6 linked regions of the Homo sapiens genome follow. The protein of the gene in region 5 interacts with the protein of the main gene of each other region in a biochemical or structural test. Each region holds a gene or a part of one and is shown on either strand. Other genes may lie near its edges. The genes, in order: COPG1, COPB2, KRT9, SDHA, WBP2 and COPA.

Region 1 (3,500 bases), on a different chromosome or scaffold from region 5:
TGGCCCCCCCTGGATAATCCAGGATAACCCCTAGCTCAAGATCCTTAATTTAATCACATCTACAAAGTCCCTTTTACCATGCAAGGTAACATAGCTGCAGGTTCTGGGAATTAGCATGTGGGCATCTTGGAGTCATTATTCTGCCACACCTTCCAAGGAAGTCTCCTAAGCCGCTTAAAGGGTAACAATTCCATTTTTAAACAATCATCCAAAAGCCTCACATTTACTAATCACATACATGTTCAGTTCCAAGAACTTTCCTAGATCTTGAATTTATTGCCTCATTTGTCTTTACAACAACGCTGTGATCAAGATAATGATATCAGTTTTATTGATGAAGAGTCTGAAACCCTACCAACAGAATCCCCCAGGGAGTAAGTATCAGGCCCAAAACTCTGAGTCCCAAGAAAATAAATATCAATAGAAAAGCACTCTAGTGGTTGATGGTCATGGTGGCCCAAAAGTTCCTCCTAATATCTAGCCTGGATTGTTCTGGGCTTTTTATTGCCTGCATATTCATTAGATTCAGTCTTCAGGCTGCAGAGGGCTGAAGTGGTCACATAGGCTGACTTTTTGTGGAGGAAAAAAGCAAAATAATAAAAATAAGGCCTACCTTTCTCTATGTCTGAAACGTGAATTGAGTACCTTCTAAGTAAAGGGAAAAATATCAGATCCATGGCCTCAAAGCACAATCCCTGTTCTCATGGAGTTCAATTAATTGGGAAGACAAGTTGAAAATCTTAGAGCAGTGGTCTTTAAATATCAGTATATATTGGAATAATCTGAGGAAACATGTTAGAAATGCAAATTCCTTGATCCTGAAACCAGAGATTCTGATGTAGTAGATTTGGGATGGAGTCTGAGTTTTTAGCAAGCTCTGCCGCCAACCCCTAGTAATTCTGATACAGTTGATCCATGGTCATAGTGCGAGGAATCCTGCCATAGAATAGGTACAAGAGTGGCAGCTGTAGCCATTATAGGTGGACACCATGTGCACACATCTGCCAGATGCCTCATTCACTTGGGTTATTCCCTTTAGTTTGCAAGGAATGCCAGGACCAGCCAGGGTGGGGTCCCATGGGCCTGTGCTTGAATCCAGTGCTTGAACCTGGGCATAGGGTGTAGGGATAGGTCTTACCAGACACAAACAATTCTAAGTTAGGTTTTCTGCAACACTCTCATTCTGAAATATCTCTTTATTGGCCATTTGTCTTAACTGATAAATATATAGGACCAGTTTGTTATTTTGTCTGATTTTGTAGCTATAGCAGTATCGATCTTATTTTCCTAATTGTCACCTTCTTTTAAGAATCCTTGCTGCGGTAGGGGGCGGAAATCCTTGCTAAGCTTCTATAGCTGGGGGATTCTCCAATTAGGTCTAGGATTTTGTGGTCTCATATCAGTTTTTTGCTTCTGAGGTCTTTCATGGTACAGAGATGGGGAGAGTATTTGTGGGGGGTTGTGCCACATGAGCGAAGTCAGGGAGATGAGAAAATGCATGGATATATTCAGGAAATAATGAGTAGCCAGTTGGGTAAACATATCTATCCATCTAAGGTAGGGTGGAACACCTTGAGAATGGTCATGGGAATTTATTAGAAACCATCAACAAGTTGGTCTGGGGATCGAGAAGCTGAGTGAATGTGGCCTGTGGATTTCAGAGCAGTTGGCAGCAGTGCCAGAGTTCCGCGGTCTTGGGCCCCTCTTCAAGTCCTCGCCTGAGCCCGTGGCCCTCACCGAGTCAGAGACGGAGTATGTCATCCGCTGCACCAAACACACCTTCACCAACCACATGGTTTTTCAGGTGAGCAAGGTGGGCTGAGGCCCTGCTGGGGCATGCGCCCAGGGAGTTGTCCCAGGTCTGGCAGGTCCTGTAGGGTCATGGGTCCCCACACTGCATTGGTTGGGAGCCCAACTTGATGACAGAATCTGTCCCCAACAGGTCGGTCTCTCATATCTCTTGACTCGGGACATCCATGGCTCCCGATTGTCAGCATGAAGACAGGGAACCTGGGGCAGGGGGACTGGGATGGGAATCACCTTGGTCAATAGGAAAGAGGTGGGACCTCCTGGCTTTTCCTCTGCAGCATGGCTCGGACCTAGTGCAATGTTTAAGCTCCCCTCTCTTTCCTGTTCAGTTTGACTGCACAAACACACTCAATGACCAGACCTTGGAGAATGTCACAGTGCAGATGGAGCCCACTGAGGCCTATGAGGTGCTCTGTTACGTGCCTGCCCGGAGCCTGCCCTACAACCAGCCCGGGACCTGCTACACACTGGTGGCACTGCCCAAAGAAGACCCCACAGCTGGTGAGCCCCTCTCCAGATACCACCCTATCCTCCTGGGAGCTCATGGGGTCAGGAGGAGGTGGGCGGCTGGGCACCAGCTGTTTGCCTTCTATTAGAGCTTCAGCTCCTTGATTTCAGTCCCAAGAAGAAGAATAGCTGAGTCCCAAGTGCTCTTCTTTAAAAATTTTTTTTTTTAAAGAGACAGGATCTCACTAGAACTCATGACTTTCCTGTCCTACAAGGTGGCACCCTCTGTCCAGCTTTGTGGGATTGGATGGCTTGTTGCTGCTACTAATAACATAGCAGGGGCCTAGAAAGCAGGCTGTGACCCCTGCCTGCTTGTCCCCTGCAGGAGGAGCCCATCCCCTGCAGGCTGGGGACATCCTAACTACCCAGCCTCTCTTCCCCACAGTGGCCTGCACATTCAGCTGCATGATGAAGTTCACTGTCAAGGACTGTGATCCCACCACTGGGGAGACTGATGACGAAGGCTATGAGGATGAGTATGTGGTAAGATCCTGGTGTCAGGAAGCTCAGTTTTGTGCTGAGGCTGCAAAGCAACTCCCTTCAGGAACTGACAGTGAGACTGGAGCTGTTTTTGGCTTTTTAGCTCTTTAAAATTTTATTTTTTTATTTTTATTTTTTGAGATGAAGTTTCTCTTTTGTTACCCAGGCTGGAGTGCAGTGGCGCGATCTCGGCTCACTGCAACCTCTGTCTCCCTGGTCCAAGCGATTCTCTTGCCTCAGCCTCCCAAGTAGCTGGGATTACAGGCGCCCACCACCATGCCTGCCAAATTTTTTGTATTTTTGGTAGAGATAGGGTTTCACCATGTTGGCTAGGCTGGTCGCGATCTCCTCACCTCAGGTGATCCACCTACCTTGGCCTCCCAAAGTGTTGGGATTACAGGCGTGAGCCACCGCGCCCGGCCTAAAATAACTTTTTAAACTTATGGAAATACATGTTCATGTGTAAAAAGAAAACTTGGGAAATACAAAAACAAAATTCAAAACAAAGTATGAACAACAGGAAAACATTACTCATAATCCTTAGAGTTATTTTTGGGGGGAAGTGGTATAATTGAAATCATTCTTACAGTGTAGACCTTGCTATTTTAAAACCATAGTGTATTTTCCAGTATCATTACAAATACTTCATAAACACAATTTTTTTAGTGGATTTAAAATACTGTTATATACTATGTCAAAACTTG
Region 2 (3,500 bases), on a different chromosome or scaffold from region 5:
TTTTGATAATCGAAGAGGGAGAGCAGGGTACAAAAGACACTTCTTGGCCTTAGGGACCCAGAACTCATCACAAAAATAAATATTCCAAAAACAACAATGGAGGGGAAACTCACATGTTTGGGCTGAATTTCAATTCTTCGTATGAGTTCTGTATTGTCCCAGTCATAGAAGGCTAAGCCATTTACAGATCTGACTCCCAATAAGAAGCCGCCGTAGATACCTAAAGGGAACATAAAAAGAGTTTTGCTTAGGCATTTTTGAGCCATTACAAAGAATTTAAAAATGTATCATATGTAGATCACACTCACTTTCTGCTCCAAAATCTGGTTTAAATGATTTTTTTTCCTTAAAGTTCTTAAATATCTTTACAATGCTGTTGCTCTCTCTTATTGCATACCTGGGAGAAAAAAGGGAAGGCAAACATAACATGTTATATACTAAATCATAGTTCTACCAAATGTTGGAAATATCTTCAAATATTTTTCAGTAATTATGCAAAAATATAAAATAAATATTTGAAGATTATCTGATGTACTGTTTTCCTAAGAGATCAGAGAACTCCTTACAGTTGGACAAATGATGAAAGGGTTTTATACTGTGTATGACATGAATTACTAGGGCTTACAAACCACTTTAGAAACTGAAAATGACCCAAATGTCCACAATAGGTGAATGATTAAACAAATTATCGTATATTCATATAATGGAATGCTACTCTGCAAATAAAGAAACCAATTACTGATCCAGGCAAGAATATGGATGAATCTCAAAAACATTATACTGAACAAAAGATGCTGGACTCAAGAGTACATACTGTATGATTCCATTTATATGAAACTCCAAAGACAACTCTAATCTATATAGTGACAAAAGGCACTCATCAGTGTTTGCCTGGGACTGGGGAATGGGTGGATGGGGGGTATGGACAGACTGTTAATGGAGACAAGGGGATTTTGCGGGGATGATAGAAATGTTCTATAATTTGATTGTGTTAGTAGTTACGGATTACATACATTTGCCCAAATCTACTGACATGAACAGTAGTCCTCCCTTATCCATGGGGGATACGTTCTAAGCCCCAATGGATGCCTGAAACCTCAGATAGTACTGAACCCTATATACACTATGTTTTTTCCTATAATGTAAGAGGTGGGCAGCATATACAATGTGGATATGCTAGACAAAGCGATGATTCACGTCCCAGGTAGGATGGCTCAAGATTTCACCATGCAACTCAGAACACTGGGCAATTTAAAACTTATGAGTTGTTTATTTCTGGACTTTTCCACTTAATATTTTTGGAACACAGTTGACTGTGGGTAACTAAAACTGCAGGAAGGGAAACCACAGATCGGGGGATCGCTGTACAATTAAGTGGTACATTCTGTCTTCTGTAAATTATACCTCAATAAGGGCGATTTAAATAATAAAAACTGTGACAAATGGTTCATTAATCAGCCATCATCAGCAACAACTGCTTATATTCAGGCCTCTGCCTTGAAAAAAGGAGCTGTGGCTATCACTGGATATTTAAGATTGTCTGAGGAAGTGATGTGATGAGGGCTTTGCTCAGGACAGGAAAGATGCTGAGCAAGGTCTTGGCTGGATAGAGCTGAAAAAAAGGACTATCAAAATAGAGGAAGAGGTGTGCTGAGAGAAGGCAATTCATCAACTATAATTTTGCTTAAGATAACACATTACCTTTGAATACATAGAACTGTATGTATATGTGTATTTAGGAAATTTATGAAAATATCAGAACAATTCCATACCTCTCAATAAATCTTACTGTTGTAACATTTTAAAAAATGTATCTTATTACACAACGCTGAGGCTTAAGTTACCCCACTGTTGGGGGCAAGATGCAACATAAAATGTGGGGCAAACAAAACTAAAAAAACTGTGAAAATGTAATTCAGTTGTGTGGTCTGAAAACACTAAACCCCTAATGTTTATTACGTGCATTAAACAGGAATCAAAAAGGAACCAGAGCCAATGACTAGTAAAAAAGTCAGAGTTAAATGATCTTTCCTGCTTTTAATGAGAACATTTTATGAACATTCTGAATTCAGACAGAAATTTGTTAAGAATGGGCAGTGGGTACTATCACAGAAAATAAGTTTTAAAAAAGATTTAATAAATTTCTCATCAAAATGATCAAACCACAACATCACTCCCAAGTAGCTCATAAAGGGGCAGTAGCACCTCAGGACACTACATCACAGGGAGGGCATGCCAAGGCCTGCCAAGGCAGACATGAGGGTCTACTGTGCCTTAAGCCCATAAAGCACCAGGTCCTGCCATGGGCTCCATCAAAGAAATGGGTGCTGGGTCCCCAGTTAAATGGAATTATTGTATCAGCTTGAGTGAGCCAGCCTAACGCAGAACAAAGAAAGCACTAAGACGGCTCATGCTATACACTCGCCTCTGACTCTCATCTTCCAATGGACAGCTCTGGTGAGAACTGTTTTTTAACACGGAGAATCACAGCCCACATCAAGCCTTGAGAGTCTTCAAGCAGCACACAACACATCTGCAATCAGGGCATGCTGGCTATCATACAATCAAAACTTACTCTGAAGAATCGTGGGCCCATGCAAACTCCTGAGCAGATCCAAAGCTCTTGTTTCTCAATGCCATTGCTGTGTAGATGATATACTCCCCATCACCACACACCACCACAAACCTAGAAATCACAGAAGCCAGGGAGGGAAGTACAGAGGACCAAAGACATGTAGAAGTTAAGGAACAATAATTCATGTTATGGTAAAAGAATTCTAATAACAAATGTTATTTAGTTCATTATTACAATTTAACATCTTTTAAAAGTTATACATTTCTTTGAATACAAAGTTACAAAAAAAATTCTAGCCAACAAATTGAAAAGGAAATTATGAATATGGCATTACTGCTGAAATGTTATTGGAATGGTCTTCTCATAAATAAAGGCAACTGGAGGCAGGAAGGTGAGAATGGCTGGAAATGCAAAGGAGGAGGATTCCAATTATTCAACCAGTATTTGTTGAGCACCAAGATGCCTAGAACTTTGCTCATGACATTTATACCACAGGAAGGCACTATATTATTACAAAGACTATCTTCATTTTAAAGCTGATCATTCAAATGAATAAAAATATCTCACTCCAGGTTTTAAAGACTTAAATTCAGCAAAATACAGAGGATATTTTAACATTTAAATAATGAGAAAACAGAATGCTGCAGAGTCAACGAAAATTTTCCCAATGGACATAAGACAACTATCTTTAAAGTTGTTTATAACACTGTAAAGGCTGGTATCAAAAGACTGCCAAAGGCAAAACTTACAGCCAAGAATGTTTTACGATATTAAGGGAAATATGCATAATGCATTCTTAACCTTTATAAGACAATTATATTACAAATAATTATGGATACCATTTACTGAACTAGGCGGCATACTTGGTTTATATCTTTTGTCTTTTTCAATACTCAGCACAGCATTATAAGATGCCCAGACCTGC
Region 3 (4,049 bases), about 34 Mb from region 5:
CATGGATTAGAAAGGTCATTCTGGCTGCTGTGCAGGAAGAGTCAGAGGGAATGGGAGAGGCAGGGAGGGCAGTTAGAAGCTCATGGCTAAGGTCTGGGTGAGGGCAGAGTTGACGGGGAGTTAGGGGGCTGAATGATCAGAGGCAGCCGAACATTTTTTGAGCACTTCTCACAAGTCTCTTACTAGGAGATGGACAAACTACTCATATCAACCTTTTTCAAAGGAGGAAACTGAGGCACAGAGTATTTAAGTAACTTATCAAAGTCACACAGCTCATGAGCATGGAGCTGGATGGAGCTCAGGTAGGCACACCGGAGACCAGCGTGTTCTTTACCATTCTCTTCTGGCCTTGGTGACCAGAATATACATCCAAGTTTCTGCCAGGAGCAGGGATAAGTCACACATCTCTGTATCCCCTCCAGAGTTCTGTATGGGGTAGGCACTCAACCAAGGTCAATTCCACACTCCCTGCTGGGCCCTGCAAAAGGACCAGGACAGTCGAGCCACTTGCATTCCTGCTCAGAGGTCAGCTAGTGTCAGCACCACCTTGTTTATTTGGTCCACTTTCTTCTTCCAGCCCTTTGTGTGAACTCTGCACGCTGTCCTTTAGTGCTGGCGGGCATGGTCTCGGTGCCCGTCTCCATCTTTTGGCCATGCCAGTTGCCTCCTCATCAAACTGGAGTCTCCCAAGGGCAGAGCCTCAGACTCTGCAGAAAGCCTCGAGGATCCTGAGAGCAAGGATTGGTTTTCATCCATTTGGGGCTCCACAAGGGCAGGGGCTGTGCCTCCCCCTCCTCTATGATAACTCCTTAGTACCCTAGTTCCAGCTCAGCTCACAGTGGGCACAAGGTGGGAGCAAGGAGGCATGAGGGATGCAGACAGTAATGACCATCAATAGAGGAGGTGACTCTGCTCTTGGGAGTTTCTATCCCGAAGGGGCTAAGTCTCAGACCTGCTGTTGGGGCCAGCCAGAGACCAGACTCCAGGATCTAGGTCACCCCTGTGGCAGTACAGCTGATTTATGGTGGCCCTGACAGCCTAATGTCATCAAATTATCCCACACAATGGAGAGAGGCTGGGCCGCCCCCAGGCAGTCACCAAAGGACGCTGAGCCTGGGGCAGCCCGGCTGCCTCCGTATCCCAGACCTCCCTCGGGTCTGTGGGGGGAGGCTGGCACAGAACAAGGGCACACCCAGGCGTGCCACCTTCAGCTGGGGGTATAAGTAGGCAGCCCCAGGGACAGCTCTGTACCCTGCACTTGGGAGCCGGTAGCACTCCTATCACTGCTTCTCAACCCGTGAGCTACCAGCTGTGTCATGAGCTGCAGACAGTTCTCCTCGTCCTACTTGAGCCGCAGCGGCGGGGGTGGCGGGGGCGGCCTGGGCAGCGGGGGCAGCATAAGGTCTTCCTACAGCCGCTTCAGCTCCTCAGGGGGCGGTGGAGGAGGGGGCCGATTCAGCTCTTCTAGTGGCTATGGTGGGGGAAGCTCTCGTGTCTGTGGGAGGGGAGGCGGTGGCAGTTTTGGCTACAGCTACGGCGGAGGATCTGGGGGTGGTTTTAGTGCCAGTAGTTTAGGCGGTGGCTTTGGGGGTGGTTCCAGAGGTTTTGGTGGTGCTTCTGGAGGAGGCTATAGTAGTTCTGGGGGTTTTGGAGGTGGCTTTGGTGGTGGTTCTGGAGGTGGCTTTGGTGGTGGCTATGGGAGTGGGTTTGGGGGGTTTGGGGGCTTTGGAGGTGGTGCTGGAGGAGGTGATGGTGGTATTCTGACTGCTAATGAGAAGAGCACCATGCAGGAACTCAATTCTCGGCTGGCCTCTTACTTGGATAAGGTGCAGGCTCTAGAGGAGGCCAACAACGACCTGGAGAATAAGATCCAGGATTGGTACGACAAGAAGGGACCTGCTGCTATCCAGAAGAACTACTCCCCTTATTATAACACTATTGATGATCTCAAGGACCAGGTAGGTGCAGGAAACTGTCTCTGTCTTGGTCTCTTTCTCTTTCATTCTTTATCTTCCAAAAAAGTTAAAATGCTAAACTCTAAGCTCAGATAATAGCCAGGGAATCCACCTTTTGGAAATGTACGCTTTCATCAGAAACAAACTTGTGTTTGGTTTCTGGGGATCCCAGGATAGGACTTTGGCCTGTGCTCTGAGTGTTCACTTCCATTTCCTCAACTTTCAGAGTTTGGGCAGAGCAGAGAGGAGACCTGGGTTAACGTGAGCTGAGCTGGGACTGGATGTGGAACCTCCTTTAGGTTTGGTCTAAGTCAATACTTTCTCTTCCTTTGTACTTCTCCTGGGCTTCTTTAGGAGTGTATCTTGATCTTTTAAGGTATTTTGGACCTGACTGTACATGTTGGTTATTCAAGTGTTGGAGAGGATCCAGAAATCTGGGAATGGAAGCTATCTATCCATCCATCCTTCCATCTATCCCTTCCTCCCTCCACCCACATGTCTATCTATCTATCCATTTATTCAGCCACTCAGTTCAGTGAGTGCCTACCCTCAGGGTTGCTCTGGGTAGACATAGTGATGTGCTAGACCTAGTTCTGGTGGAGCTCACGGTCTGGCTCTTCAGTATTCTCAGTGATTCCTCTTGTTTTAACTCCTGCATGTCTCTGAATGTGCTGTTTCTTCTACTCTAAACCTCTTCCATTTATTTATTAATGTTACATCTTAGCCATCCTTCAGGGCCCAATTCAATTGCCAGCCACCTCCTTCCTGAAGTCTTTCTTGATCTCCCATTGCCATAAGCCACCTCTCCTTTCCTTGAACTCTTTTAGGACACTTTTGACTTTGTAGTCAATGGTGGGCTCCCTGAGGAACAGGATGTCAGTAATCTCTAAATCCTACAATGCCCTTTGCAGTAGATCTTCAAATATTTGTTGAATGAATGAATGAAGGCCACACCAAACATCTTCGCTGAAGGCTGGAAGGGGTCTGTGCCATGTCCCAGCTGTTGGAAGTTCCTCATTCCTCTTGAGAATCTTCCTGGATGGAATCCTCACCTCCTGTGGCTTTGCCTGGCCTCTTGCCCTCTCAGCAGTGGTCCACAGCATGATATCATGGCTGTGTCCTTTTTTTTTCAGATTGTGGACCTGACAGTGGGCAACAACAAAACTCTCCTGGACATTGACAACACTCGCATGACACTGGATGACTTCAGGATAAAGTGAGTCCTGCTCCTCTTCTCCTCTCCTGTCATCAGCCCTTACCCCTGAACCTCAGTGCTCTGGAGGTCCTGGTAGGGCCTGGTTCCCTCTTGATTGTTTTCTAACCCTGGCTGGTCTGCAGGTTTGAGATGGAGCAAAACCTGCGGCAAGGAGTGGATGCTGACATCAATGGCCTGCGGCAGGTGCTGGACAATCTGACCATGGAGAAGTCTGACCTGGAGATGCAGTATGAGACTCTGCAGGAGGAGCTGATGGCCCTCAAGAAGAATCATAAGGAGGTAGGTTGCTGGGGCTTATGGCTTACCGGGAAGAGGGAGGAGCAGAAATGCAGAGACAGCAGGGGAGCTTTGGAACATTACCTGGGAGACACCCTCTCCTTTGCTCTTGAGGACACTTTCAACTTCTCCTTGGCATCACCTATGGTAGTGGTTGGGCTTTGGCTTCACAACTGTGTCCCCTTTTTGTACCCTGGGGGGACCAGAGGGAGAATTCTGAAAGGTGGTGCAGAGGACTTTATCCGTGACCTCATCTCCCCTTCTTCCCTGGCAGGAGATGAGTCAGCTGACTGGGCAGAACAGTGGAGATGTCAATGTGGAGATAAACGTTGCTCCTGGCAAAGATCTCACCAAGACCCTCAATGACATGCGTCAGGAGTATGAGCAGCTCATTGCTAAGAACAGAAAGGACATCGAGAATCAATATGAGACTCAGGTGAGCAGAGTGGGCTGCCCATTCATCCTCCTCCCCTCCATCTATTCCTATCTCCATCCCTCCCACCTCCCATTCCTTCATCCTCCTATCTCTGCATCTCTCAGTGCAGCTGTCATTTATCCATCTTCCAATGGAAGTCATTCATCCATCTTCATTCACTGCATAC
Region 4 (3,500 bases), on a different chromosome or scaffold from region 5:
GCCCAGCTAATTTTTGTATTTTTGGTAGAGACGGGGTTTCACCACGTTGCCCAAGCTGGTCTCGAACTCCTGAGCTCAAGCAATCTGCCTGCCTCGGCCTCCCAAAGCGGTGGGATTATAGGCGTGAGCCACTGCACCCAGCCTCAGTTCTACCAATTTTAACACATGTATAGGCGCATGTAACCACTTCGGGAGGCTGAGACAGGAGGAACACTTGAGGCCAGGAGTTCAAGCCCATCCTGGGCAACACAGGGAGACCCTGTCCCTACAAAACATTTTTAAAAATTAGCCAGGTGTGGTGGTGTGCACCTGATCGTACCACTGCACTACAGCCTGGGCGACAGAGGGAGACTATCTCTTAAAAAAAAAAAATACATATATATGTGTATATATATGTATTTTTTTTTGCAGGGGGTTTTGGGGGAGAATAGTGATGCTACAAGCATTTTTTCTTTCCTTTTCATTTTTGAAAATTAAAGCATAAAGATACAGTAAAATAAACTCATCATTTTTAGTGTAGGGTTTTTCAAATTTTGACACACACAGAGTTGTGTCTGTAAGTCTCAGCACAATCAGGAAGCAGCCTCTGGCAACCACCAATCCCTTGTCTTCCCTAGATGTGCCTTTTCCAGAATGTCGTATCAACAGAACCACAGGCATGCAGCCTTTTGAGTCTGACTCCACAGCATTCTGCGTGAGATGCTGCATGCGTGGGCGGTTTCTCAGATGTAAAGTATAGGGTATTCTTACAAAATGTTCTTTTTTGCATTTTCAAAGAAAGAGCAGCTCAAAATTTCTACATTGCTCTGAGAGAAGTGGTATCAGTCCTCACTGCGACAAAGTGCAGGGCTATGGAGTGAGACAAGCACTACCTGCGGCGTCAGGAACGATGGACCTGAACTCCGCCTTCGCCGATGATCACCAATGGCTGGGGATGAGACGCCAGCTCTGCGTGTGCTGGCCTCCCGAGCGGTGGTCAGATCCAGAGACAGAGTGTCTGAAGTAAGCTACCCTTTTAATACTATCTGCACCTTTCTAACTACAGATACAAAAGGGGGCACGTTTATAAGTTACAGCCGTGCTAGTTTTTATTTCACTTGAATCCATACAAAAAGCACCTGTTGTATAAAAACAGCAGAAATGATGCTAACAGTTAACACCAGAGAAAGGTAACGGGAAGAACATGGGCCTGGGGTCCCACCATCCTTGCCACGCAAACATCCACCAGTGCCTCATCCACCTCACACTGTTCTGAGCACACGAGGCTGGATAACCACCGTGAGGATGTCTGGAGGTGGGAGAGATGCTAACTGCCCCGTTCTTAGTGCACGTAAGACTCACACTCCCACACATGGTATTTCCTTTACTGCACATTATTTGATGCTATCATGAAAAGAAAACCAGCAAGTGAAATCCAATCTGTCCGTAAAGGGTGGGAATCCTGTTCACTGTAAGTCATCCCTTCTCCTCTAATAGAGGCTAGCTGTACTTTGTTTCTAGAATGGCCTAAATTACTTTTCTAAGTACCAAGAAGTTACATATTCATTCATGCCAACTACTTAAAATATTTCATTGCAAATAAGTGATTTTTATCAGGCAAGTAATATGTAATGATTCCCCTAAAAATAACAACTTTCTAATAGTGCTTTTTCTAAACAGAACATAATGACTGCAAAATAATTAAAAAAAAATGTAACCCCAAAAATGTCACCTTAACTGTTAAGATCCCCAACCAGCCTCTATCTAGTCTCAACATTACCACCATATAATTTCTGGATTTCTCAGTTTAATCACTTCTGGGGGAAAAACCCAGACTACCTCTATATGATCACTAAGCAAATTTCCAGTAAGAAATCAAGGCTTTGTAACCTGGCTGGGTGCAGTGGCTCATGCCTGTAATCCCGATACTTTGGGAAGCTGAGGCAGGACTGTTTGAGTCTAGGAGTTCAAGACCAGCCTGGGCAATATTGTGAGACCCTGTCTCTACAAAATAAATTTTTTTAAAAATTAGCCAGGTGTGGTGGTGCACATCTGTAGTCCCAGCTACTTGGGACTCTGAAGGTTGAGGTGTTGAAGACTGCTTGAGCCCGGGAGGTTGAGGCTGCTATGACTGTGCCACTGCACTCCAGCCTGGGCTGACCCTTTCTCAAAAAAAAGAAAAAAGACTTTCTAACGTCCTGCGCCTTCTCAAATAGTCTGGCTCCTGAAGAAAACACTTACCAGGCCTGCATGACTCTTCGATGCTCAGGGCACATGCCCGACCAAAGACAACCAGGTCCAAGAGCGAGTTTGCCCCGAGGCGGTTGGCACCATGTACCGAGGCACAGGCGGCCTCCCCACAGGCGTACAGGCCGGGCACAATCTGATCCTGGCCATTCACGTGCCTCAGGACCTGTGGAAAGGAAGATTTCAGGTGAAATGTCAAGGTGCCCATGCCTCCACCAGCCCACCTTCCCCAACAGGGTGTCTGTGCTGCAGGTCAGAGAGAGGGAAGTAGGCCAGGCGTGGTGGCTCACGCCTGTAATCTCAGCACTTTGGGAGGCTGAGGTGGGTGATCACCTGAGGTCAGGGGTTCAAGACCTGTCTGGCTAACACGGTGAAACCCCATCTCTACTAAAAATACAAAAATTAGCGGGGCATAATGGCGGGTGCCTGTAATCCCAGCTACTAGGGAGGCTGAGGCGGAAAAATCACTTGAACCTGGGAGGCAGAGGTTGCAGTGAGCTGAGATCGCACCACTGCTCTCCAGCCGAAGCAACAGAGTGAGACTGCATCTCCAAGAAAAAAAAAGAGAGGGAAGTAAAGACCGTATCTAAGAGGGAAGTAAGGACCATAGCTACTCTTCTTCAGAGGGAAGCTTCCGAAGGTATCCCCCAGTTTCCCCTCTGCCCCTGAGCACCTGCTGTTACAAGCAGGTCAGAGGACCTCCAATGTCAGCATCTGCGACTGTCCCCCGTGTCCCATGTTCCCGGGGCCCTCACCACCTGTGCTCCGGCTCAGACCCAGGAGCACGGCAGGTGGAGGAACATCAGCAGGGGAGACTGATGTTCCAGACTGTTCTACCCCGTTCACCTCTTCGTCTACGCAGGGAGAGCAACAGCTTCCACCCACCTCGCCCAACAAGGAGCCTAAGTGACTGACAAGCTCTGTGTGAACCACAAACCACTCAAAGGAATGAATTATAAAGATCCCTTGATGTGTAAGATCATTAGAAATAACACAAGATCATATAGGAAAGTAATTACAAAATGGAAAAAGCTGCAAATGATGTATCTCTGACAATTTACTAAGGAGGAATAAATTATTAAGCCCCCTCCATCCTCCGGTAATAGAAATTTAAAGTGCAATCTAGAAAACAATACAGTACTTTCTTGAAGGAAACATCTATCTTTTCCTGTAAGATCTAAAGAGACAACTGCGAGGTGGGCCCCGTCGTCCCAGCCTTCTTTCCAGCTGTGGGGGAGGAGCCAGCACCATCACCTGCCCCTTGTAGTTGGTGG
Region 5 (3,500 bases):
GAAATTTTACAGAACCCCCAACCTGCTCATTTCTTCCATGGCTATATTAATGGGTTTTTTTGTTGGTTTTTAGTTTTTTTGTAGAGATGAGGTCTCACCATGTTGCCCAGGCTGGTCTCAAACTCCTAGGCTCAAGCGATTCACCCGCCTCAGCCTCCCAAAGTGCTGGGATTACAGGTGTGGGCCACTGCGCCTGGCCCTATGAATGGCTTTATTTATTTATTTGTTTTTGAGACAGAGCTTCTCTCTTGTTGCCCAGGCTGGAGTTCAGTGGCGCCATCTCAGCTCACTGCAACCTCTGCCTCCTGGGTTCAAGCGATTCTCCCGCCTCAGCCTCCTGACTAGCTGGGATTACAGGTGCCCGCCACGGTGCCTGGCTAATTTTTTTGTATTTTTAGTAGAGATGGGGTTTCACCATGTTGGCCAGGCTGGTCTCAAACTCCTGACCAGGGGTCATCCGCTCGCCTCGGCCTCCCAAAGTGCTGGGATTACGGGCGTGAGCCACCGCGCCCAGCCCTATGAATAGTTTTAATGCCGCACTATTGAGAGGTTATGAGAGCTGACGTGCCGGGCAGCTGCTTGGGAGAAAGGCCCAGTGTCTGGGTGACGTCGCGTCTCCATACTGTCTCATTGAGGCTTTTCCTCTTTTCTCATCACAGCATCCTAATGTCCTATGATCACGTGGAACTCACATTCAATGACATGAAGAACGTGCCAGAAGCCTTCAAAGGGACCAAGAAAGGCACTGTCTACCTTACCCCTTACCGGGTGAGTTGCACAGCAGGGCAGTTGGTTGAGAGGCTTGTTGCTGTTGGAGGTGACGTGAGTCTTAGTCTCAGGTCTGCCTCAGCCTCATGAGTCAGGTGGCCTCTGAATCCTGGTGAGTGTTAGTGCTTCACTCTGCCTGTTTCTCTGTCACATGCTCCTGGATTCCAGAATCACCAGGCTCTTTGTGTAACTGACCTGACCACTGGGCAGTGAACCCATGTCAATTCCAGAGCCGCTGCTGCAAAATCTCTATAGAGTTGGATGCAGCCGCTGGCATGACTTGGGCCTGGAGGCCAGACTATTATTATTAATATTTTGTTTTCTGTGAGAGTAGCCCATGAAGCCCTGTGTGTATCCAGAGTGAGAAATCCAGTAAACAGGGTACAGTTGCATGGCACGGCCTCCGGACTGGGCAGAGAGCCCGGTACCACCCCGCAGAATGACAAATGCCAGGCTGCAGAATGGGCCCTGCCTGAGAGTTACCCACGTGGACTCTGAGAGGTTGAGAAATACAAATGGATGTTCTTGGAAAAGGATTGCTGCCTGTGGCTACTCAAGATTTAGACTCAAAGACAGGCTGGTGCGGAGGCTCATGCCTGTAATCCCAGCACTCTGGGAGGCCAAGGTAGGCAGGCCACTTGAACTCAGGAGTTCGAGACCAGCCTGGGCAACATGGCAAAACCCCATCTCTACAAAAAATACAAAAATTAGCTGGGTGTGGTGGCACATGCCTCTAGTCTCAGCTACCCGAGAGGTAAGGTGGAGAATAACTGGAGCCTGGAGAGGTTGAGGCTGCAGTGAGCTGGGATCATGCCACTGGATTCTAGCCTGGGCAACAGAGTGAGACCCTGCCTAAAAAAAAAAGACTTAGACTCAAAGACAGCTGGAAGAAGAGGAGCACATTTTCAAGTTTTAATCTCCATGACTTCACAAAGACAGGAGAGTCTCAAAACCCCATCTCTGGAGGCTCAACTTGGCACCTTCAGTCACAGATAAAAGTCGTGGGTTTAAAACCCTGGCTGGGGCCGGGTGCGGTGGCTCATGCCTGTAATCCCAGCACTTTGGGAGGCCGAGGCGGGCGGATCATGAGGTCAGGAGATCGAGACCATCCTGGCTAACACGGTGAAACCCCATCTCTCCTAAAACTACAAAAAATTAGCCGGGCATGGTGGCGGGCACCTGTAGTCCCAGCTACTCAGGAGGCTGAGGCAGGAGAATGGCGTGAACCCGGGAGGCGGAGCTTGCAGCGAGCCAAGATCGCGCCACTGCACTCCAGCCCAGGCAACAGAGTAAGACTCCATCTCAAAAAAAAAAAAAGAAAAGAAAAGAAAAAATAAAACCCAAGGGTTTCTCCAGGCACAGGCTCCAGGAGAGCTCTTGTTGCTGTTTATAGCCCCCCTCAATGGGAGCTAGCGACCTACTGCACCATCATTCTCAGTTCTGGAGAGTTCAGGCTGGAGACCCCCCTCTTTCAGGAACCCATCCCTGCCTTGCCTCTGCCTGTCCTTCCCTAGCTTCGTAGGCCCCTTCACTTAGGCAACACTGCCACCACCCCACCACGTCAGTGACAAAGCAGTCTGCCCTGCTCATAGATACTATCTGTGACCAGCACGTTTTTCTCCCGTGTGCGTGAGCTTGGCCTCTCCAGGCTGCGGTGAGCCCTTTCCCTTTCCAAAGCTCTCTCCAGGAGTGTCTGGCACAGAGAGAGCCATGGGGCTGCTGGACCCTGGCACTGGGAGAGGATTCGTCACTCCCAGGAAGCAGGCGGGAAGCATGGCAGCGTGGGCTGTGCTTCTAGTACTGATGGCCTCACCCTCTCTCCCTGCAGGTCATCTTTCTGTCCAAGGGCAAGGATGCCATGCAGTCCTTCATGATGCCATTTTATCTCATGAAAGACTGTGAGATCAAGCAGCCCGTATTTGGTGCAAACTACATCAAGGGAACAGTGAAGGCGGAAGCGGGAGGTAGGTGATGGGAACTCAGGGACACGCATGGGGCCTGCAGGGAGGTGTCCTGGGAACCTCTGACTGCCGCCGTGGGGGCGTCCCCTTCAGACCCTTATCGCCCTAGCCATGACCTCTTCCCAGCTCTGGGCTGCCAGCTGGTGGGGTTTGATTGCCAAGAGGTGGGGAAAATGCTGGCATGAAAGACAGCAGCTCAGATCAGCTTTTCAGAGCGTGAAGTCTGCAGAAGCCTGCGGACTGAGTCAAGATGCTTAGTGCAACTTGGCGAGCGCATACAAATTTTAGACTCAGGAAGGAGCTGCATCAGGTTCTTGAGAGGGGCCTTTTCATGAGAGCCAGGAAGAGGCAGCTGCCTCTGGGAAGCCAGAGTCACCCTGCTTTGGGGCTGGCTTTTTGGCAGGCCCCAGAGACCTCTGCATTGAACTTGCCTTCCCCTTGACACCCAGCCAGGCCCGCCCTTGCTATTGAGACACTCTTGGTCCCCCTTTGGGCAGAAGCCAGGCTAGAGGGGCCGGAGTCTGTCCTTGGGCCCCCTTAGGACGAGAGGTCTGCTCTGAATTTTAAGGTCGGCTGTTGCTGAGTGGGCTTGTTCCTGTGAAGCTGCCGAGTGCTTGACTGGGGGCGGAGAGAAACCTTGATGTGGCCTTGGCACCCGTGTACATATTGGGCCAAGGGTGGGAGGACAGGCTTGTTCCAGGAAGGAGAGGCCATTGTTCCAAAGGGGGAAGCGAGTACAGCAGGGCCAGGCCAGGCTGCAGTGCTGGCTCC
Region 6 (3,500 bases), on a different chromosome or scaffold from region 5:
AGACTGTTCTGGGGTGATGGACACCTTGGATTGGGACTGGGTTGTGGGTAGCTCTGCAGACTTCCAGGCCATGAAACGAACTAGGATTGATTTTACTTCCTTTGGCTAAGATTATGCCACTGCCCAAATCTGTTTTGAGCTTGAATTTTCCTTACAGATGGGTTTGTGGAGGCTACAGAAGGTTTGGGGGATGATGCTCTTGGCAAGGGACAGGAAGAAGGAGGTGGCTGGGATGTAGAAGAAGATCTGGAGCTCCCTCCTGAGCTGGTATGTGGAATTTGTACCCTTAGAAGGTTCTCTCCGTATCTCCCTGTGGAAGCCAGAGGCCTTATTGTCCCCTACCACTATCCTCAGGTCTCCTATCCTATCCCCTACCACTATCCTAAGGTCAGCCCTTCTGGGAAGGGGACTAGACCCTCCTAGTCTGATGCTTATCTCCCATTTGAAAGAAGGAAGATGGCTGGGCACGGTGACTCATGCCTGTAATCCCAGCACTTTGGGAGGCTAAGGCAGGACAATTGCTTGAGCCCAGGAGTTCAAGACCAGCCTGGGCACCATAGCAAGACCCTGTCTCTATTTTAAAAAGTAAAAGAAGCAGGAAGAACGAGAGAGTCAAAGTTAGTGGCCTTGTCACTTCCATCTATCCTGATATGCTCCAAGAGGAGAGGATGTAGGACTTATCTCTAATCTGATGCTTAACTCCCATTTGAAAGAAAGAAGAATGAGGTAATCAGCGTTCTGCCAGCAGCAGCTTATGAGAAGGTAGCAAGCTGTTTCATCTGAATTGGAGTTTTTGATATGTCATTTTGTCACTGGTGAGGTGGCTCCTATTTTGGCAGCCTTCTCCCACAACTATCACCCCTCTTCCTCAGTGGGGGCAGGGAACAATGTAAATGGTTGTGTTCTAGATTCAACAGAACAAAGTGCTTGAATGGCTTAAAAAATTACTCAATTTGGCTGGGCACAGTGGCTCACGCCTGTAATGCTAGCACTTTGGGAGGCTGAGCCAGGCAGATCACTTGAACTCAGGAGTTGGAGACCAGCCTGGGCAACATGGCAAAACCCCATCTCTACAAAAAAATACAAAAATTAGCCAGGTGTGGTGACTCATGCCTGCAGTCCCAGCTACTCGGGAAGCTGAGGTTGGAGGATTGCTTGAGCATGGGAGGCAGAGGTTGCAGTGTGCCGAGATCATGCCTCTGTACTCCAGTCTAGGTGACAGAGTGTGACCCTGTCTCAAAAAAAAAAAAAAAATTACTCAATACTCAATTTTTGTTTTTCCCCTAGGATATATCCCCTGGGGCAGCTGGTGGGGCTGAAGATGGTTTCTTTGTGCCCCCAACCAAGGGAACAAGTCCAACTCAGGTAAGCGGGAAGAAACCTAGCACGGCAGGGATGAGTGGCTAATACTTGATTGGTATATAACAGGTGTTGGCTACTTTTCTACTATAGTTACAGAGGAGAATAGAGAAGGGACAAAGTTTCACTTGGCTTGGGTTTTTTTGTTTCTTGTTAGATCTGGTGTAATAACTCTCAGCTTCCAGTTGATCACATCCTGGCAGGCTCTTTCGAAACAGCCATGCGGGTAAGTAACCTTGGCTTTTCCTCTTGAGTGTGCCTAGCCCAGGGTCCCCGGGAGATGGTTGACTCATTTTAATCAAGGGAAATTATCCTACCCATAAGGGGAAAGGTGTATATTTTTCATGAAAACTCTTTATCTTTGTTAAGTACACTTGCCTTCCTGTTATCTGCCTTCCACTTGGCCTAGTAATCTCTTAGGGCATATCCTTCAGTCATCTTCCACCCATTTATAGCTTGCTTTCTGGCTCATATCAGTGAGATAAGTACCCCTTTCCAAGCAGAGGTCTGTTTTGAACACTAAGCCAGTATTGTTATAATAACAACAATAATGATAACACTGCAATAACTGCTAACGTTTATTTAATGTTCACTGTGTGCCAGGCACTATCCTAAATACTTTAATAGGTATCATTAAATGAGGTAGGTCTTACAATTAAGTGTATTTTACTGATGAGGAAACGTGAACAGAGAAATTAATTACCTTGCCCAAGGAAAAGTAGCTTTTTATGCAGCAGGGCCAAAATCCTTGTTTCTTTCCTTCTGTTCCAGCTCCTTCATGACCAAGTAGGGGTAATCCAGTTTGGCCCCTACAAGCAACTGTTCCTACAGACATACGCCCGAGGCCGCACAACCTATCAGGCTCTGCCCTGCCTACCCTCCATGTATGGCTATCCTAATCGCAACTGGTAAGGCCCTTTTCTCTTTGCTTTCATCTGTTCCAAGTTGTGGTCGATATTTCAGATGGTAGCCTCAGTGACATAGTCAGAATTCTCTCAGAGCTAGGGTTTCCCAGTAGAAAAAGATCTTTGGTTTGTTACTCTATGGGGTTGGTTTACACCTGCTGTCATCCTCTTCCCCAGCTACTTTAACAGGAGACAGGAGGGTAGCTATGAGGATGTTTGCCAGAAAAGGAAATTGGGTCCTAGTTGCCTACTGACTATCCTGTCTTCTTCCTACTTTTCCCTTTCCAGGAAGGATGCAGGGCTGAAGAATGGTGTACCAGCTGTGGGCCTGAAGCTTAATGACCTCATCCAACGGTTGCAGCTGTGCTACCAGCTCACCACAGTTGGCAAATTTGAGGAGGCTGTGGAAAAATTCCGTTCCATCCTTCTCAGTGTGCCACTTCTTGTTGTGGACAATAAACAAGAGATTGCAGAGGTAGGAGGGTCTAGCCGCTGTCCCAGTTCTGGGCACTTCCACATTCTTGTCTCTGTATCCTGACCTTCTGCCCCCTCTACAGGCCCAGCAGCTCATCACCATTTGCCGTGAGTACATTGTGGGTTTGTCCGTGGAGACAGAAAGGAAGAAGCTGCCCAAAGAGACTCTAGAACAGCAGAAGCGCATCTGTGAGGTAAGATCTATAGGACCCTGAGCACAACAGAGACGTCCTTCCCTTCACCCTTCACTAGGTTTGAATTCTTTAATTTCAAACCCAGATCTGAGTGGGGATGAAGAGAAATTTAGGCCCTTCATTTCTATGAGGGGAGGATACATTTCTTCATCCTACTTCCTCATCTCACCAGTCCTCCATACCTAGGAGGTAGAAGACCTCTCAGCTTTATAGCCCATCATCCTATTTTGTGTTGTGTTTTTTATGCATGTGTAGCAGCTTAGAAATGACTTCTACCAGGTGTAGCATCAACCTGGCATGTGTTCCTTTTTCTGTCCACCAGATGGCAGCCTATTTCACCCACTCAAACCTGCAGCCTGTGCACATGATCCTGGTGCTGCGTACAGCCCTCAATCTGTTCTTCAAGCTCAAGAACTTCAAGACAGCTGCCACCTTTGCTCGGCGCCTACTAGAACTCGGGCCCAAGCCTGAGGTGGCCCAACAGGTAGATGGAACTCCTTCAGTGACCATAGGGAAGCCAGATCAGCTCTTACATGGAGGGAGCAGACCAAGGTCCTTGCCTCTGAAA

Evidence for each region.
Region 1: the proteins of WBP2 (region 5) and COPG1 form a complex in vitro, tested with the Homo sapiens proteins (one study listed by BioGRID).
Region 2: the proteins of WBP2 (region 5) and COPB2 form a complex in vitro, tested with the Homo sapiens proteins (one study listed by BioGRID).
Region 3: the proteins of WBP2 (region 5) and KRT9 form a complex in vitro, tested with the Homo sapiens proteins (one study listed by BioGRID).
Region 4: the proteins of WBP2 (region 5) and SDHA form a complex in vitro, tested with the Homo sapiens proteins (one study listed by BioGRID).
Region 6: the proteins of WBP2 (region 5) and COPA form a complex in vitro, tested with the Homo sapiens proteins (one study listed by BioGRID).

What each region holds. Positions count from the first base shown.
Region 1 is NC_000003.12:129,270,106-129,273,605, forward strand, and holds part of COPG1 (coatomer subunit gamma-1), read left to right. Parts: intron 1-1,661; coding exon 1,662-1,804; intron 1,805-2,040; exon of another isoform or gene 2,041-2,138; coding exon 2,139-2,310; intron 2,311-2,701; coding exon 2,702-2,799; intron 2,800-3,500. UniProt on the Homo sapiens protein: The coatomer is a cytosolic protein complex that binds to dilysine motifs and reversibly associates with Golgi non-clathrin-coated vesicles, which further mediate biosynthetic protein transport from the ER, via the Golgi up to the trans Golgi network.
Region 2 is NC_000003.12:139,369,148-139,372,647, forward strand, and holds part of COPB2 (coatomer subunit beta'), read right to left. Parts: intron 2,687-3,500; coding exon 2,576-2,686; intron 398-2,575; coding exon 309-397; intron 221-308; coding exon 114-220; intron 1-113. UniProt on the Homo sapiens protein: The coatomer is a cytosolic protein complex that binds to dilysine motifs and reversibly associates with Golgi non-clathrin-coated vesicles, which further mediate biosynthetic protein transport from the ER, via the Golgi up to the trans Golgi network.
Region 3 is NC_000017.11:41,569,260-41,573,308, reverse strand, and holds the start of KRT9 (keratin, type I cytoskeletal 9), read left to right. Parts: upstream 1-1,249; 5' UTR 1,250-1,316; coding exon 1,317-1,958; intron 1,959-3,088; coding exon 3,089-3,171; intron 3,172-3,293; coding exon 3,294-3,450; intron 3,451-3,721; coding exon 3,722-3,883; intron 3,884-4,049. UniProt on the Homo sapiens protein: May serve an important special function either in the mature palmar and plantar skin tissue or in the morphogenetic program of the formation of these tissues. Plays a role in keratin filament assembly.
Region 4 is NC_000005.10:235,320-238,819, reverse strand, and holds part of SDHA (succinate dehydrogenase [ubiquinone] flavoprotein subunit, mitochondrial), read right to left. Parts: coding exon 3,481-3,500; intron 2,393-3,480; coding exon 2,221-2,392; intron 1-2,220. UniProt on the Homo sapiens protein: Flavoprotein (FP) subunit of succinate dehydrogenase (SDH) that is involved in complex II of the mitochondrial electron transport chain and is responsible for transferring electrons from succinate to ubiquinone (coenzyme Q).
Region 5 is NC_000017.11:75,848,836-75,852,335, reverse strand, and holds part of WBP2 (WW domain-binding protein 2), read left to right. Parts: intron 1-659; coding exon 660-768; intron 769-2,596; coding exon 2,597-2,732; intron 2,733-3,500. UniProt on the Homo sapiens protein: Acts as a transcriptional coactivator of estrogen and progesterone receptors (ESR1 and PGR) upon hormone activation. In presence of estrogen, binds to ESR1-responsive promoters. Synergizes with YAP1 to enhance PGR activity.
Region 6 is NC_000001.11:160,291,251-160,294,750, reverse strand, and holds part of COPA (coatomer subunit alpha), read left to right. Parts: intron 1-157; coding exon 158-267; intron 268-1,287; coding exon 1,288-1,365; intron 1,366-1,516; coding exon 1,517-1,585; intron 1,586-1,924; exon of another isoform or gene 1,925-2,130; coding exon 2,131-2,267; exon of another isoform or gene 2,268-2,552; coding exon 2,553-2,739; exon of another isoform or gene 2,740-2,821; coding exon 2,822-2,932; exon of another isoform or gene 2,933-3,254; coding exon 3,255-3,416; exon of another isoform or gene 3,417-3,494; intron 3,495-3,500. UniProt on the Homo sapiens protein: The coatomer is a cytosolic protein complex that binds to dilysine motifs and reversibly associates with Golgi non-clathrin-coated vesicles, which further mediate biosynthetic protein transport from the ER, via the Golgi up to the trans Golgi network.